Homo sapiens: one gene and its partners. The protein of the gene in region 1 purifies or fractionates together with the protein of each later gene. This does not show direct contact. Each region holds a gene or a part of one and is shown on either strand. Other genes may lie near its edges. The genes, in order: RASGRP3, ACTR3 and MID1.

Region 1 (3,657 bases):
CAATTACATGGTCTAGGAACAGTTTGTGAGAAGGGCGAGAAACCACACTCCTATTCCAATGCAGCAGACCTAGGGGATTTAGGCTCTCAGAAATTAAGAGGAGTTATTGGTTTCATTTTCCACAGCCATACAAGGAAAACAGTTAATTCAGTATTGCAGCTGAGTTTCAGATGCTACAGTGTTATAAACCCAAACAGGGAAGTTGCACCTCTACTTTTGTTTAAGGAAGGGTGAGTGAATTTTGTTATGCCTCTTCTTCCCACAAAGCAGCAGCCAGTGGGAAATGTTCTCTTCTATACACCGTTGTGTCTAAAAGTTCTAGGATGCAGAGACCAGCTAAACATGTGTGCCACAAATGCCAAAAAACTATGAGTGGTAGGTGAACTTCTTTTGTCTAAGCCACATCATTCCTAAATACAGCATGCAGTTCATTTATTGAGTTCCCAAATATGCCAGGAACTGTGAGAGGTGCTAGGCATATGATATGTAAGGCAGATAAACAGATAAAAATCGAATAAAGAGTGATACCTCCTATAGTTAAGGAAAATATAAAGTGCCAGGGTGATGTGACAGATGCATGACTGCTATGGAGGGGGAGAGAGAATGCTCCAGAAAGACAGGCTTTTGAAATTGAACTTGCCACATGGATGGGTTGGGATGGGATTCTCCAAGCAAGTCCAAAGGCCAGGAAGCAGAAGACAGCATTTCATGGGGTGGAAAGTATAAGAAGTTCAATATTTCTCAAAGGCTGGTAAAATGTGGGATAGGGTGATGGCAAAGAAGGTTGGAGACTGAGTCTTCAAGAACCTCGAATGCCAGACTGTAAACTACATCCTGGAGGTTTGGGAGGTTCATAATGGGAACAGGGGGATCACAGATAAGGTCCTTGCATTACTCCAGGCTTCAGCCAAAGCAGTGCAGTGAGGATAAAGAGGAGCAGATGACTGGAGGACATACAGAAGGATGTGATAAGTTGGATGAATGTGGTGAAGGAGAGTGAGGGCTGAGGCACAGTCTGGAGGAGCCTAAGAACTCCAGAAGTGGAGTCATATGGCAGAGACTGGGCCCCTCCGAACAAAGGTAGATTTCTTTGCCCCAAGATTTGCTGGTTATGGAAAATATTAATCAGGGCTCCTTTTCCCTTGTTCTATGAGATTTCCTCTCATCTATTGACTCTGAAACCAATTTTCCCCCAGAATGAATTGCTGGCACACATCTTCCTGTGTCTCCTGGAAAGAAAGGTGCAGAAGAATTATTGAGCCCAAACTTGGCTCCTTGGAACTCACCGTGAGCAGGTTGATCAAATCCATGTTGGGTTCTAAGTGGTGAGAGGCATTCTGCAGGGAGACTAGTTCACTCAGGGTAACGGAGAGCTGGTGCATTTTCACAATGTTCACTTTGTTCTCCTCTGTCCAGTCTGGGAAAATGACATGGACAGCTATCAAGTCTTTCAAGTGTACTCCAAGGATGGGGATTTTGAAGCCATCGCAGTCGGCAAAGGCCTTGCGGTAATTGCAGTAATTGCCGTTGGAGGAGACCAACTCTGTCATTTCATTCCAGTTCTGGGAACAGATGGAAAAGTAGAATTTTCAAACAACTTTCCCTCCTGCACACCCCCGGGCCCTGCAATGTGTGGCTAGGAAATTCCTCAGCTACTGAGAAAAGTATCACTTGCACCAATGTTGCTGCAGGGAAATATGAATCAGGAAAAAGAAAGTTAGAAAAAGTACTAGGCCTGGCTATGCATTGAGCAGCCTGTTCCATTTTGCTATAAAATGGAAATAGCCTACATGTCTGCCTACCTACTAGGGATGTTGGGATATTAAATGGCATCATGTATACTTAAGTGTTTGGAAATTTATGAAAATATTACTGTCCGCAAATTCAAGCATGTCGAATATTAAAATTGTTATTTGTTCCAAGAAAGTTGCATTCCAGATATTACTCGAGGTTAATTTGGGACAGTATGGGGTAGAGAAAGTTGCAATGCGGTGTGAGATAGCTGTGGTTCTATATTCTGCCTAACTAGAAGGGTGACCTTGAGCAAGTCACTTCACTTTTTTGGGCCTCAGTTTCTTTCTCTGTAAGTAAGAGAAGTTCCGATACATAATTTTAAAAGATGCACTGGTAGTTCTCCAAGCCTCTATAAACTTCTATCAGATTCTTATTCTTCACAACATTTAAAATTTGTTTTTGCTTTTTACTTGAGATCTGGTACAAAGCTAAAAGAAAATGAAACACTTATTACCTAATAAGTTCCATTACACTTGGAATGAGTACAGAGCTTGAGGTCAAACAACGGTACTTCTGTGGCTTACTTCCTGTTGTTTATATGGACAAGTTATCGTTGGTTGCTTCACAGCAACCAGACCTTTCTAGTAGACCCCAATTTTGATTAGTCTGCTCTCTCCAAAGCAGCCCTTGTGACTCAGACAGAGTCTGTTTCCATTTCCAGAACCAGGAATGGGTTTTGATTTATCATCAGAGTAATTGCATCCTTCTAGTTTGTGATTAGTTCAGGAACTCAGGGTTAAGCCAATCAGTACATTGTATTACTCTGGCAACTGTTATTGGTCCAGGGATGGACCTAAGACCTGAGTTGGCTCAAAAGGTCTTTAATTCTATGGGTGAAGAGTTGAAGTGAGTAGTCTTCCCTATCTTCAACTTTCATGAACAAGGGAACGTAATTTTTCGGTTGCTACATACAGCCCAATTAGGAGAGAAACAGTTTGATGAAACAAACAAAAAAACAAAACTCTCCGATATTCAGAGGCGGGCGGAGCACCTGAGTCAGAGGTCTGATCAGACCGTGCCTGCTCTGTCTCTGGACTTCCAGGTATGTCCCCCAGGCTGGAGTGCAGTGGTATGATCCTGGCTCACTGCAGCCTCAAACTCCTGGGCTCAAGTGATCATTCCACCTCAGCCTCCCAAATAGCTGGGACTACAGGCACACACTGCCACACCTGGCTAGTTTTTTTTTTTTTTTTTTTTTTTTTTTTGTAGAGACAGGATCTAGCTATGTTACCCAGGCTGGTGTCGAACTCCTGGCTTCAAGCAATCCTCCCACCTCCACCTCCCAAAGTGCTGAGATTACAGGTGTGAGCCACCACGCCTGATGGACGATACATTTGCTTATTGTTTAATTGCTGTAGAAGTTTTTTTCTTTTTCTTTTAAACTCACAGCTAAAAGTGTCCTTATTGAAGTAGCAAAGTGCACTCTTATATGAGAATCTTTTCATAAGGATGAAATGCTCCTTTTTGCTCAAGAAGAAAAACAACTATCATGTCATGAAAATAAATGTGGCAGAAACGCTCAGTTTGGAAAATGATCACTGTTTCTAATATATATATATATATTCATGACAATTCAGTTATAAATCTGAGGATTTCTATACAAGGCCTATGTCTTCCCCTTTCTATCTTCTGATGTGCCCAACACAGTGTTATGAATAGTCATTCAATGACTTTATTTCAGGAGGTAGGGTAGGAACTATTTCTGTCTTATTTACCTTGTGTATCACAATGCCTATCACATAGTAGGACCAAATAGATACCTGTTGAATATTTACCACTACAATATGTTGAGTTTTTTTTTTTTTTTTTGGTTTTTTTTTTTTTGAGATGGAGTCTCGCTCTATCGCCCAGGTTGGAGTGCAG
Region 2 (3,657 bases), about 80 Mb from region 1:
CACAGAGAAAGCATTCCATAAATATTAGTTCCTTCATTTCTGTCCTATGAAAGCCCTTGAAATACCCAAACACCACTAACTTACTTTTTTAACACTTCTCTTTTCCTGACTAAATATCTCCACTTCCCATAATATTACTTCTAAATTAACAATTCAGGAGAGAAGTATAACATGCTTTGACATTATGTTTAAACCTTTGCAGAAAAAAAAAAAAAGTACGTATTTTAGGCAGCAAATTAAACTAGGTTAAAATGTAAGAATCAAACTTAGAAAGTATGAACTTGCTTACCTGCACAGCAATGTACAAGCCTGGAACATTGAAGGACTCAAACATTATTTCAGCAGTATATTCCCTGTTTTCTGGAGTATTCAATGGAGGTTCAGTCTATTGAAATAAATAACATTTTAAATAGATAATATCAGATTATTTTGATAACTTTCTTGACAATTTTTAAATGAGAAGTAATTTATTTCAAACATTTTATTTAAAATGCATTAAATTTACAAGTAGAAAGACAGACACAGAGATCAAAGGAAAACTATAGAGAATTCAAACATCCATACATATATGAAAACAGTATGGTAATTCACATTTTAAAAAAAAAATACCCTGAATGCCTATATCATACCACTTATACAGATTAAACATTAAAAAGAAATGAAGCAGGGAGAGAGAGGGTTGGAGGTAGGGAAAAGGTGGTCCAGTCAAATCATCCTTTAAATATGGTAATGACAAACCTCCAGAAAAAACATCAATGGTATTTGCCAGTGGGAGAGCCCTCATCTAAGTAATGCTTTTAGATGAATGTCCCCGAAGTATATAGGATTACAGTAAACAAGCCGAGATTCTACAGATCTAATGGTACAGCTTTCTGAAAAATGTTATATTAATTTACCTGTTAAGAGCATAGAATCAAGATGTTTGCAGAGCACTCTTCTGTTTATGTGACTGTATACATCACTTAGAAACCTCACAGGTTAAGTCTGGGACAGAACACACTCTAAAGAGGCAAGGAAGGACTCAGAGATCTGGCAGTCTTGGACTTCATATTTCACCTATGCCTCATGATCACTTAAACTGTTTCAATTTTTAAAGATTAACACTGGGTAAGACCTCTGATTCTTGTGAGTCTGACTGGCAATCTAATAGGTATCTCAAATACTTAAATGTAAAAGAAAAATTTTTAAATTTAAAAAAGACACAGAATTCTCTTTTTGACCTTAAGGTAGGAATAACTCCTTAAATTTCTGAAGTACAAATCACAAAGGGAAAAAGTGATAAAACTTGAATCCATTAAAAATTAAATATTTTTAAAATTATTATTTCAAAAGAAATATAAAGCAAAACAACTAAGTATACTGTTACCTTACATAAAACCTTTATAAGCTAAACTCCCTGTGGTGTTTAAACTTCTTTAGAAGAGTTCTGGAGCTATGTTTAAAAGTCTGGAGATAATTTACTGATGAATACATACAAAATTAAGTAAACTAAAAACCAAGGCAGTGAAATTATAAACTCCAAGAAAAAAAATCTACATAAAAGATAATCAGAGGACCCCACAAAGGAAAATATACAAATAGCTAATAATAACAATCGTACATGAAAGACTGCTCAACATAATTATCAGAAAATGAAAATTAAAATTAAAAGCAAATGAAAAATCGTACACACCCACCAGAACGGCTAAAATTTTAAAGACTGACAAGCTAGCAGCGCAGTGGCTCACATCTATAATCCCAGCACTTTGGGAGGCCGAGGTGGGCAGATTACTTGAGACTAGAAGTTCAAGACCAGCCTGGCCAACATGGCAAAATCCTGTCTCTACTAAAATTACAAAAGTTAGCCAGGTGTGGTGGTGCATGCCTGTAATCCCAGCTACTCAGGAGGCTGAGGCACAAGAATCCCTTAAACCTGGGAGGCGGGGAGGTTTCAGTGAGCCAAGATCACACCACTGCACTCCAGCCTGGGTGACAGAGCAAGACTGTCTCAAAAAAAAAGTATAAAAGATTGATAAGCCAAATCTTGAATAGAGCAAGCAGATTACTAATGCATCACTGGGGGGTGTGCAAAAAGGTTCACCATCTTGGGAAAAGTTCCCATGAGTTTCCCTAAAAAACCAATCAGGTACCTACCCTATGACGCTGCAATTCCATACTTACGTATTTAGACAAGAGAAATGAAAACATATGTCCACAAAAAGTCTTGTAGAAGAAGGTTCACAATGGTCAAATTATTTTATTATAACCAAAAACTAGAACTAAGCCAGGCATGGTGGCAGCACTTTGAGAGGCCATGGCGGGAGGATCACTTGGAGCCCAGGAGTTCAAGACCAGCCTGGGTGACAAAGTGAGACTCCATCTCTAAACCAGAACACATTACCCAGGTGTGGTGGCCCGGGCCTGTGTGTCCTAGCTACTCAGGAATCTGAGCTGGGAGAACTGTTTGAGCTGGGAGGTCAACACTGCAATGAGCCATGATTGATCCACTGCATTCCAGCCTGAGCAACAGAGCAAAACCCTGTCTTAAAAAAACAAAAACAAAAACAAAAAAAAAACAAAAATAGCCCAGGTATTCATCAACAGGAAAATGGATAAAGTGAGGCAAATTTATACAATGGAATACTACCCAGCAACAAAAAGCAACAAATCACCAGTATATGCAACATAATTCAATCTCCAGATTATGCTAAGTAAAAGTGTTTCACCAAAATGCACATATTGCATGATTCCATTATTTGACACTCAAACATGGGCAAAGCTAATCTCAGATGAAAAAGAAACAGTGGTTGTCACTAGGGCACGGGGGCAGAGATTAATTACAAAAGGGCATGAGAAAACTTTCCACGCTGATAGTAATTTCTCTATATCTTGGTAAGAGTTTAGGTTACACAGATGTATGTAACTGACAAAGATTGGACAAATCACATCATGCATCCTGCAGGTCAAATACAGCCCACCACCTGTTTTGGTAAAAAAAAAAAATTTATTGGAACACAGACATACCTATGAATTTAAGTATTGTCTATGGCTGCTAACATGCTACAACAGCACAGCTGAGTAGCTGTGACAGGGACCATTGTATAAAAAGTTCTCATTAAGTTTCCTCAGGGACTATAACCCCTGCAAAGCCAAAAATATTTGCTATCTGCTCCCTTAGAAAGTTTGCCAAACCCTGGTCAAAATCCACTGAATGGTGCAGACCGGTGATTTTATGATATGTAAATTTTATATGAAAAGAATAACCATACACAAATGATAGCTCTAGTTGATGAAATACGTGCTAAAGTATTTAGGGGTCAAATGACTCCCATTTGCAACTCACTTTGAAGTGATTTAAAAACTAAAATGAAGTGAAAGATGGATAGACGTCATGAAGCAATTATAGCCAAATGTTAAGGTTAATCATCGAATCTAGATTGTGGGTGTATGAGTGTCCATAGTATGGTTCTTTCAACTTTATAGTCCATCACAATCACCGAAAGACACAGAATATTGATTTAACCAAAAATTGTGATGTAACTACAATGCGAGGAGTGGGAAAGGATAGGTATTTTGTGTTGAGGGAGAGAAAAGGTAAAAAGGGAAATTCTCATTTTTCCTATTAGGAAGTTGGTAAATAATGTATAATATTCTTAAAGACAGAAGAAATAAAAAAAA
Region 3 (3,657 bases), on another chromosome or scaffold:
ATGTTGGCCAAGCTGGTCTTGAACTCCTGACCTCAGGCAATCGAGCTGCCTTGGCCTCTCAAAGTGCAGGCATTACAGGCATGAGCCACCAGCCCAGCCTAAGCTTTTCTTTGATATGTACAGAAATAGATTTCTAAAACAAAAGCCAGCTAACTATAGCTCAAGGGCCAAATCTGGCTGCCTGATTTTGTAAATAAAGTTTTATTAGCATATAGCCACACCCATTCATTTACCTATTGTCCTGTCCGTGGCTGCCCCCTCACTATAGCAGAAGAGTTGAATAGTCACAAAAGAGACCACATGGCCTGGCCTGCATAGCCAAAAATATTTACTGTCAGGCCCTTTGCAGAAAAAGTATGCTGGTCCGTGACCTAAAAAGAAAGGATTTTAGAGGTGCTGGTGTTGTGTTGTGTTTGTATCCAAAAGGCAACTGGAAATCCTTTGGCCTACCCACATGTGACAACACACACTGTCCTATACTCACTGGGTCAGTTTCTCGCCCAGCATCGTGTATTGCCACAGTTGAATTTACTAGACCTTTTCCTGTGATTGAGAGCTGTATACTGGGCAGAAGGAACCTGCCAACTGCAACAGTGACTGTGGAGTTTGGACACCATGGCATTTGTATCAGGTTGCAATGCATTTCCTGCCTTTAAACGCCTTGTACCCAATGCAGTGTTGAATGACAGGCAGTACTCCAAACCAATATTGAATTGTCAAAGAAGAAGTAACAACTATGACAAAATGTCCAGGTGTGACTCTGCCAAGATTTTTTTAATACTTAAATCTTTAAGACACAAATGTGAGTAATGAAATAGAGAAGGCCTTATTATATATAAATAATTTCATGAGTAGAAAACCCAGGCATTGCTATCACATTTTTTCCTAATTTTGTGGCCTGAAAATTGTATTCTCATCCTAAATTCCTAAGAGTAATGCTTTAATTTTTAATAATCTCAGAATAATATAAACCTCTAGAATATTCTATATGTTAAGACCCAAGATCTTGATTTGTTTGGTTTCTGGTCTGAAGTCTATTGAGCATGAATGCATCTTATGCTGGATAGAACACTGCAGTGGTTGAAAATGGAGTCTTCATTCATTCCTCCTTTTCAGGATGCTATCCAGCCAGTATGTACCTGTGCTGCTTGTATACACCTGGAATCCGTGAAGCTAGCTCACCCTATGTTTTCTGGCTAAGCCTTATCCATGCTGTTGTTGAATAGTTGGCATGCCACCACTGGATCCCTATCTTAGAACTGGTAGACTGAAAGCTTATGAAGACAGGAACATGTTCTTTTTCACTCTTACTGTGTACTGTACTATACACAGAGTTGCTGCTCTCTATTGTCTTTTGAATATTATGAAAACTTTGCAAGCAAATGTCTTTGAAAGTTGCTTATAATGTTTAAATTACTATTAAAATATAAGATACCACTTTGTGATAGGAGGCATGACTCAGGGAGGGCTGGCTTGTTCCTGTCTTTTAAACCTGATTTTGAAAATATGCTATTGGTTATGATAAAATAAACAATCCTCTTCCTCTTCCTTTTTCTGTTTTGTGAATTTGTTTTCAGGCCAACCATTTAAACTGGATCCCAAATCTGCTCATCGAAAACTGAAGGTGTCCCATGATAACTTGACAGTAGAACGTGATGAGTCATCATCCAAGAAGAGTCACACACCTGAACGCTTCACCAGCCAGGGGAGCTATGGAGTAGCTGGAAATGTGTTTATTGATAGTGGCCGGCATTATTGGGAAGTGGTCATAAGTGGAAGCACATGGTAAGCAACTTATTTCTATTGTCCTGCAGTTATAAAAAGGCACATCTCATTCTGTACTTAGAGAGTCAACCCATACTGTAATGCATCTTAAAGAATAAAATGCAGAAAAGTTGTATTAGTCAGCTCTTGCTAGGATAATACTGCATAACAAACACCCCCAAACTCAGCAGATTCAAACAACAACCATATATTACTAATACCCACACCTGTGGGTTCTCTGTTCAAGATTATAGAGCTCTGATCATTGGATGAGCTATACCATGTTAACACTGCTCTTTCATGCCATGAAACATGGGTTGGCAAACCACAGCCCATGAGCCAAACCTGGCCTGCTACCTGGTTTTGTAAATAAAGTTTTATGGGAATACAGCCAGGTCCATTTTTTTACATATAGTCCATGGCTGCCTTTCAGCCACAACAGCAGAATCGAGTAGTTAAGAGAGAATCATATGGTCTACGAAGCCAAAAATATTTACTTACTTTCTGGTCCTTTCCAGAAAAAGTTTGCCATTCCCTACTTTTAAACATCACTCTTCATCATTACACAAAACTAATTTCTGTTGCCTTGTATGTTTTATGGTTCTAGACTGGACCAATTAGTGCAAATAGCTAAGGGTTGAATGGTGGGGGTGAAGCAGTGATCATAGGCTGGGAATAATTTCAAAAGGCCTGTTAGATCCAGCCCAGTGACTTTAGCCCACTGAGTTCTCTAAGAATAAGGGCAAAGGTCAGGACACAATTACATTGGAATTAGTTAACCTCACAAAGTTAACCTTGCCTAATCCACAGCCACAACTGCACCCCTTTGACCGTCTGTCTCACAAATGCCTGCTTGCTATTGATCAAAAAGGGAGCTATTTTATTTTTATTTAACAAGCCCTCATATGGTACAAGTATGTGCCAGGCACTGGTCTAAGCATTTTACAGATGTCAACTCATTTATTCAGCCTTACAGCCCTACAAAGGTAGGTGCTAATATTATCCACTTTACTGATGAGGTGACTGAGGTATATGCTGAAGATCACAGGGTTACAAAGCTCACAGGTGGCAGAGTCAGTAAGTCTGCAGTCAAGGGTCAGGCTCTTAACCAGCAGTCCACAAACATTATCTGTAAAGGGCCAGAGATTCAATATTTCTGGTTTTGCATGCCAAATGATTTTTGTCACTAATACTCGACTCTTCTGTTGTAGTGGGAAAGCAGCCACAGACAACACCTACACAAATGGACATGGCTGCGTTCCAATAAAACTTCATTTATAAAAACAGGCAGAGGGCCAGAGTTGGCCCCTGGGTAGTAGTTTGCTGTTCCCCGCTCTTAACCACCATGGTATGCTGCTATTCACAAAAGGGTGGTATATTTTTGAAATGCTATAATTACTCTCTAGGGTTTATGACAGTGTACGTAATGAGTGATAGCTGAATCCTTGCTTTAAAAAATAAAATCAACATTCAAAATTGCATAGCCTGAAGATGGTGAGTATAACAGTGTTTCTTTCAATATAAGCATGATAAAACACTTATTTATATATAAAAAAACCTTTCAATTCAAACCTATGCAAATAATGTGACATGGCTGAGTCCTTTATATTGTAGGTAGAAATTAGCCAAAAATCTAAGAAGTGAATTGTAAGCTTCCCATCTCTCCCAATAATGGTACATACTATATTGGCTGAGCGAGTAGGTTTTCCTTTGTTGCTATCCTCATAATTCTCTTTGCCTAGAAGAGTTTTCTGTTCCAACATCCTGCCAGAGGATGGAGGACAAATCCTTCACCCCACTAGGCTCTGGGCTAGATTGGCATTTGCAATTTTTAGCTGCAGTGGGGCAAAATTAAAGCACAAAGGAAAACACAATGGATGCAGGTACAAAAAA

The links.
Region 2: the proteins of RASGRP3 (region 1) and ACTR3 purify together in Homo sapiens (affinity purification with western blotting; one study listed by BioGRID). This does not show direct contact.
Region 3: the proteins of RASGRP3 (region 1) and MID1 purify together in Homo sapiens (affinity purification with western blotting; one study listed by BioGRID). This does not show direct contact.

What each region holds. Positions count from the first base shown.
Region 1 is NC_000002.12:33,525,042-33,528,698, reverse strand, and holds part of RASGRP3 (ras guanyl-releasing protein 3), read right to left. Parts: intron 1,563-3,657; coding exon 1,287-1,562; intron 1-1,286. UniProt on the Homo sapiens protein: Guanine nucleotide exchange factor (GEF) for Ras and Rap1.
Region 2 is NC_000002.12:113,928,029-113,931,685, reverse strand, and holds part of ACTR3 (actin-related protein 3), read right to left. Parts: intron 386-3,657; coding exon 290-385; intron 1-289. UniProt on the Homo sapiens protein: ATP-binding component of the Arp2/3 complex, a multiprotein complex that mediates actin polymerization upon stimulation by nucleation-promoting factor (NPF).
Region 3 is NC_000023.11:10,452,998-10,456,654, reverse strand, and holds part of MID1 (E3 ubiquitin-protein ligase Midline-1), read left to right. Parts: intron 1-1,577; coding exon 1,578-1,785; intron 1,786-3,657. UniProt on the Homo sapiens protein: Has E3 ubiquitin ligase activity towards IGBP1, promoting its monoubiquitination, which results in deprotection of the catalytic subunit of protein phosphatase PP2A, and its subsequent degradation by polyubiquitination.